Linked DNA regions of Homo sapiens: region 1 is linked to region 2. Evidence: fine-mapped expression QTL. A gene starts in region 2. The other region holds a variant in brackets. All regions are shown on one strand. Distances are from middle to middle.

Evidence for each region. PIP is the estimated chance that this variant, and not a neighbour inherited with it, causes the effect.
Region 1: its variant is the best candidate, but not a certain one, in a credible set for the expression of KIF1C in esophagus mucosa (GTEx, PIP 0.51).

The regions. Positions count from the first base shown.
Region 1 is chr17:5,048,142-5,051,145 of GRCh38, reverse strand. All of the region lies in intron 3 of LOC105371501 (a long non-coding RNA gene), which reads right to left. Among named protein-coding and RNA genes, the nearest start is that of SLC52A1, 14 kb to the right of the region's middle. The variant T/C (reference allele first, on the strand shown) is at 1,507.
Region 2 is chr17:4,996,615-4,999,114 of GRCh38, reverse strand. It overlaps KIF1C (kinesin family member 1C), which reads right to left and starts at 1,165. Exons shown (of 23, transcript NM_006612.6): 1 at 959-1,165. It overlaps INCA1 (inhibitor of CDK, cyclin A1 interacting protein 1), which reads left to right and starts at 1,593. Exons shown (of 7, transcript NM_001394789.1): 1 at 1,593-1,619. RefSeq lists silencers at 703-802, 853-1,722, 1,763-1,852.

The DNA.
Region 1 (3,004 bases), 52 kb before region 2:
CAATATGATCTTTATCAATGTCACAGTGATAGGATATGTCTCTAACCTGTATCTTTTATTTTCTTTCTTTCCTTTTTTTTTTTTTTGATACGGAGTTTTCCTCTTGTCGTCCAGTCTGGAATGCAATGACATGATCTCGGCTCACCACAATCTCCGCCTCCCGGGTTCAAGCAATTCTCCTGCCTCAGCCTCCCGAGTAGCTGGGATTACAGGCATGTGCCACCATGCCCGGCTAATTTTGTATTTTTAGTAGAGACAGGGTTTCGCCATGTTGGTCAGGCTGGTCTCGAACTCCTGACCTCAGGTGATCCACGCCCCCTTAGCGTCCCAAAGTGCTGGGATTACAGGCACGAACTACTATGCCTGGGATTAACCTGTATCTTTTGACTTATTAACTTGTCTGTGCTTACTGGAGTGGCACTCTGAGCTGAGCCTGGACAGGTGAGACTATTTCTAGAGGTTTGTCTATTCTATATATTTCATATAAACAGGATCATACAATATGTTGGAATTGCATCTTTATGTCTCTTTTCAGTAGTCCAATGGCACAATCTCAAAAACAGTCTAACTTCTGAACTTTTGCATACTGTTTGTTTGTGTTCTTCACATCTGGATTTGGCGTTCCCACGCTGGAATGCTGTTTGGGGGGATGATACGCAATCTTCTCTCAGTCTCCATGGTAATCGCTCTGAACTCACCGCCCAGCTGTAGGGCAGCGCTTGCATGTGATCATGATAAACTGCAATATGCATTCAACTGAAATAGAAAAGCAGCTCAAGGATGCACAGCGAAGCTGTGGTTTTTTTTGTTTTTGTTTTTGTTTTTTTGTTTTTTTTTGAGACGATGTTTTGCTCTTGTCGCCCAGGCTGGAGTGCAATGGCAAGATCTCGGCTCAGTGCAACCTCCGCCTCCCAGGTTCAAGTGATTCCATGCCTCAGCCTCCTGAATAGCTGGGATTACAGATGCCTGCCACCACACCCGGCTAATTTTTGTATTTTTAGTAGAGACGGGTTTTCACTGGTCTCGAACTCCTGACTTCAGGTGATCCACCTGCCTCGGCCTCCCAAAGTGCTGGAATTACAGGTTTGAGCCACCGCATCTGGCCTGCAGTGAAGCTTTCTAAGTCTATCTTTTCCTTTCTCCTTTCCTTCCTCGTGTCCCAAAGGCAGGAATATGCCCCTCCTCTTGAAGTTCCTCTGATTGTCCAGTCCTCCACGGAAAATCTTATTATTTGTTTATCAGACCAGAAGCAAAATAAATGCCCTTGAAAGGTGACAAGCAACAGCGTGAGGAGGACCTCGCTTGCCCAGGCAGCTTCCTCCAATCCCACCCTTGCCCCACACCAGAACAGAGGATAATTTCAGCACCCGTGCCTGGGAAGACACCCAAAATGAGTGTCTGTAGTTTGTCCCCTCTTTGAAAGAATGCAGGGCTTGAGAAGGCTCACTTTCCCTGCAGGCCTCTGTCTGGTGCCAGATGTAGGCTCTGTGAAAAGAAGCACAGCTA[T/C]AACCGGGAGCCTTAAAATAGTCAAAGTTTCTATAACAGAAATTATTAGTGGTGTAGGGGAGCAAAAACAGGCAAAAGAATAGCTGCTTTGAGCTTCAGGCTTTCATTGTGGTTAATAGACAATTGAAATCAAAGAAACATGTTTACTTCTTTTTTCTTTTCTTTTTTTTTTTTTTGACAGGATGTTGCTCAGACTGGAGTGCAGTGGTGCGATCTGGGCTCACTGAGGCCTCAAACTCCTAGGCTCCAGGCTGGGGTGCTGTGGTGTGAACTCAGCTCACCGCAACCTCCACCTCTGGGCTCAAGCGATTCTCCTGCTTCAGCCTCCTGAGTAGCTGGGACTATAGGTACACACCACCACACCTGGCTAATTTTTTTTTTTTTTTTTTTTGAGACAGAGTCTTCCTCTGTCACCAGTCTGGAGTGCAGTGGCATGATCTTAGCTCACTGTAACCTCCGCCTCCTGGGTTCAAGCCATTCTCCTGGCTCAGCATCCCGAGTAGCTGGGATTACAGGCGCCCACCACCACACCCAACTAATTTTTGTATTTTTAGTAGAGACAGGGTTTCACCATGTTGGTCAGGATGGTCTTGGTCTCCTGACCTCGTGATCTGCCCACGTCGGCCTCCCAAAGTGCTGGGATTACAGGTGTGAGCCACCGCTCCTGGCATTTTTTTTCTGTAGAGATGGGGTTTTGCCATGTTGCCCAGGCTGGCCTCGAACTCCTGGGCTCAAAGCAATCCTCCCTCCCCGGCCTCCCAAAGTTCTTGGATTACAGCATGAGCCACCATGCCTGGTGGAAATCCATGTGGAACATGTTTGTTTTCCCTCCACTGGGTTGTAGCCCAGCTTTCACTCCACTATTTGTGTTATTTCTCCACCTCCCACTTCAGCACCTCAGTCTCTTTCATCCTAAGAAAATCCACCTCACCCTGTGGAATTAAAAACATTTAAACCAGCCAGGCACGGTGGCTCACGCCTGTAATCCCAGCACTTTGGGAGGCCGAGGCAGGTGGATCACCTGAGGTCAGGAGTTCAAGACCAGCCTGACCAACATGGTGAAACCCCGTCTCTACTAAAAATACAAAAATTAGCTGGGCATGGTGGTGGGCGCCTGTAATCCCAGCTACTCGGGAGGCTGAAGCAGGAGAATCGCTTGACCCCAGGAGGCGGAGGTTGCAGTGAGCCGAAATCGCACCATTGCACTCCAGCCTGGATGACAAGAGCAAGACTCCATTTAAAAACAAAACAAAACAAAAAACAAAACAAAAAAAAACCCTTTAAACCAAAGAATTTGGATGCAGATTGAAATGGTTAGAAAATGTGGCCGGGCATGGTGGCTCACGCCTGTAATCCGAGCACTTTGGGAGGCGGAGGCAGGTGGATCACCTGAGGTCAGGAGTTCAAGACCATCCTGGCCAACATGGTAAAACCCCGTCTCTACTAAAAATACAAACATTAGCAGGTGTGGTGGTGTGCGCCTGTAATCCCAGTTACT
Region 2 (2,500 bases):
AGGGTGGGGTCATCCTGTAGCCATCAGACCAACCCTCAGGGCTCCACCCTTGGGGCGCCCAGAAATACCTGTGTTTGAGGGTAGAGGGTCCCTGGGGCCTCCCTAAAAGGGAGAAAGAAAAGGAAGCCGGCTGGCTGGTGCCAGCCCCAACCTGGGGCTAGTGCTATGGCGTCCACTGCCCTGGGGAAGGTGCCAGGCTGGAGCCCAGGAATGTGGGTGATCGGGTGCCCACACCCTGGGAGGAGAGGCTGAGCAGCCCACGCCCACGGACAACAGGGAGGAGGACCACGAAGGATAAGGGATGCGGAGCCCCCTCCTGTGGCCCCAGTGGACCCCAAACTCCTGTCACGCTGGGCCTCCCCTCACCAGTCTTCCTGGGCAGAGCATGGGAGGGTGAGGGGCTGGTCTGTCCCAGGACAGGAAGGGAGTAGCTGGAATCACAGAAGCTGGCTCAGGAAGAACAGCCCTGACCCCCTAGACCCTGACCAGGGGAGGGAAGGACACTGGTGGGGACAAGCGATGGTGACGCCGTTGCTGCAGCTAATGGGACAGGGATGGGGTGGCACGGCTGGGGGCCAGCGGGGTAAGGGAATAGAGGTAGGGACAGGGGTCGGCCGGTGCAGCTGTGAAGGAGCCGTGGGGTACAAGGAGGATACTGGGCGGCTGGGGTGGGGCCGACCGGCCCGAAAGGGGGTCTTGGGCCACCTGCACCTTGCCCACCCGGCGGTTCTCACACAGGTCCCCGCCCGGCCTCTCAGGGCGGCCATGCGGACCCGTCCTCCTGTCCAGCCAGCCGGCGGCCGCCCGGGCCTGGCACCTCTCTGCGCCTCCGCGGAACAAACAGCACATGATCCCGACTCTTGAGCCTAGATCGCGCCGCCGGACCCCGGCTCCCCGCCCCCCAACCCGGCACATTCCTCCGCGGGCGTCCCTTCCCTCCCCCTTCCCCAGCCCTCACCTCGGCGCGGCGGGGCTCCCGGAGCAGCTCGGCGGAGAGGGACAAGCTTTCCGGGAAGCGTGAGGCGGAAGCGGGAAGGATCTGGGGCCGGTTCGGAGCTGCCCCCGCCCCTCGCCGGGTGCCCGGGCGGCGGGCGGCGGACTCGCGCCCCGGGGGCGGCAGCAGTAGCGGCGCCAGCGGCCGGCGCCCGCCCGGGCAGCGCGAGCTGGGGCGGGAGCGAGGGGCGGGGGACGCGCGAGCGCGCGCGGAGGGGCGGGTACGCGCGGTCCCGGGAAGGAGCCGGGAGCGACCCGGGCTACTCTTGTTAAAGGGGCAACGCTCCTGGCCTGTGGGGCCCAGCGAGCGGGAACGTGGGGACCGAGCTGCGGACGCAGAAGGGCGAGCAGACGCCGCAACCCAGGAGGGTTGCAGACGCCTGAAGAACAGGGAAACGTCGGGGGCTGACCCGCGGGGGCACCCAGGCCCCGGCCCAGTTCCCGTCGCCGCCGTTGGAGGCGCGTCCAGGGGGCGGAGCCTCCTGCCGAGGCCCGCCCAGAAGGTGGCTCCGCTCAGGCCCCGCCCTCAGACGAGCACCGCCCGCCGGCTCCTCCCGCGGCTCGAATCGCCGTCTCTCTCCTCCCCGCCCCGCCGAGTTCTAGAATTCGCCGCGCAGCTGCTTCAGGTGCTGGGGCCAAATGCGGCCGGCCGTGGCGCGGCTACTCGGGCGCTCTGTCCCCGCCTGGCCCTCAAGTTCGGCCGCCCTGGACGCCGCCTGAGGCCCAAACAACCCCTTCAGGCCCGGGTGCCGCCTAAGGCCGGAGCTGCCCTCTCAGACCCGGGGCGTCCCTCAGGCCCCAGCCTGCCCTTCAGCCTGGGCCCACCACCTCAGGGCCCCTCTCGAGGGAAGCAGCCCCCAGTCGTGCCCTCGGGCGGGGCTGCCCGGAAGGTCCGGCCACGCCCGGTCCACCTGTCGAGGGTCCCCGTCGCCCTTTCAGGCGCAGGCCGCGCCCTCCGGCCCGGCGCTTCCCTCCAGCGGGGCTCCAGGCAGCCCCTCAGCCCCAGCCGGACCCTCGGGTCCTCATCCACCCTCGCAGGCGCAGGCCGTGGCTACCCCGAAGTCAACTGTGGAGGATCCTTCCTGGCTTCCTTCAGCTCCATCCTGCCCTTGGATCTAGGTCACCCGCTTGGACCCAACTATCTGAGGCCCGAATGCCCCGCAGCTCCCGCTGCTCCCTCGCGTTCTGCTGACCCCCCTCCGAGTCAGGACATCCCCTTTAGACCCCACTTTAGGCCCTTTCAGCCCAACTCCAACTAGCCCCATCTGCCGCTTCCGCACGGTATACTTCTCTCCGCTTTTGACCTCACCTGCTTTCCCAGCCCATCCCTAGTTCCCTTGGATAAATACTAGTTCACCTCTACAGTTCCAGCTGGCTGCTTCTGTCCTTCGGGAGCCTATGTGCACTCTCTCCTAACTTATCTAGTATTCTTTTTTTTTTTTTTTTTTTTTTTTTGAGACGGAGTCTTGCTCTGTTGCCCAGGCTGACCTCGGCTCACGGCAACCTC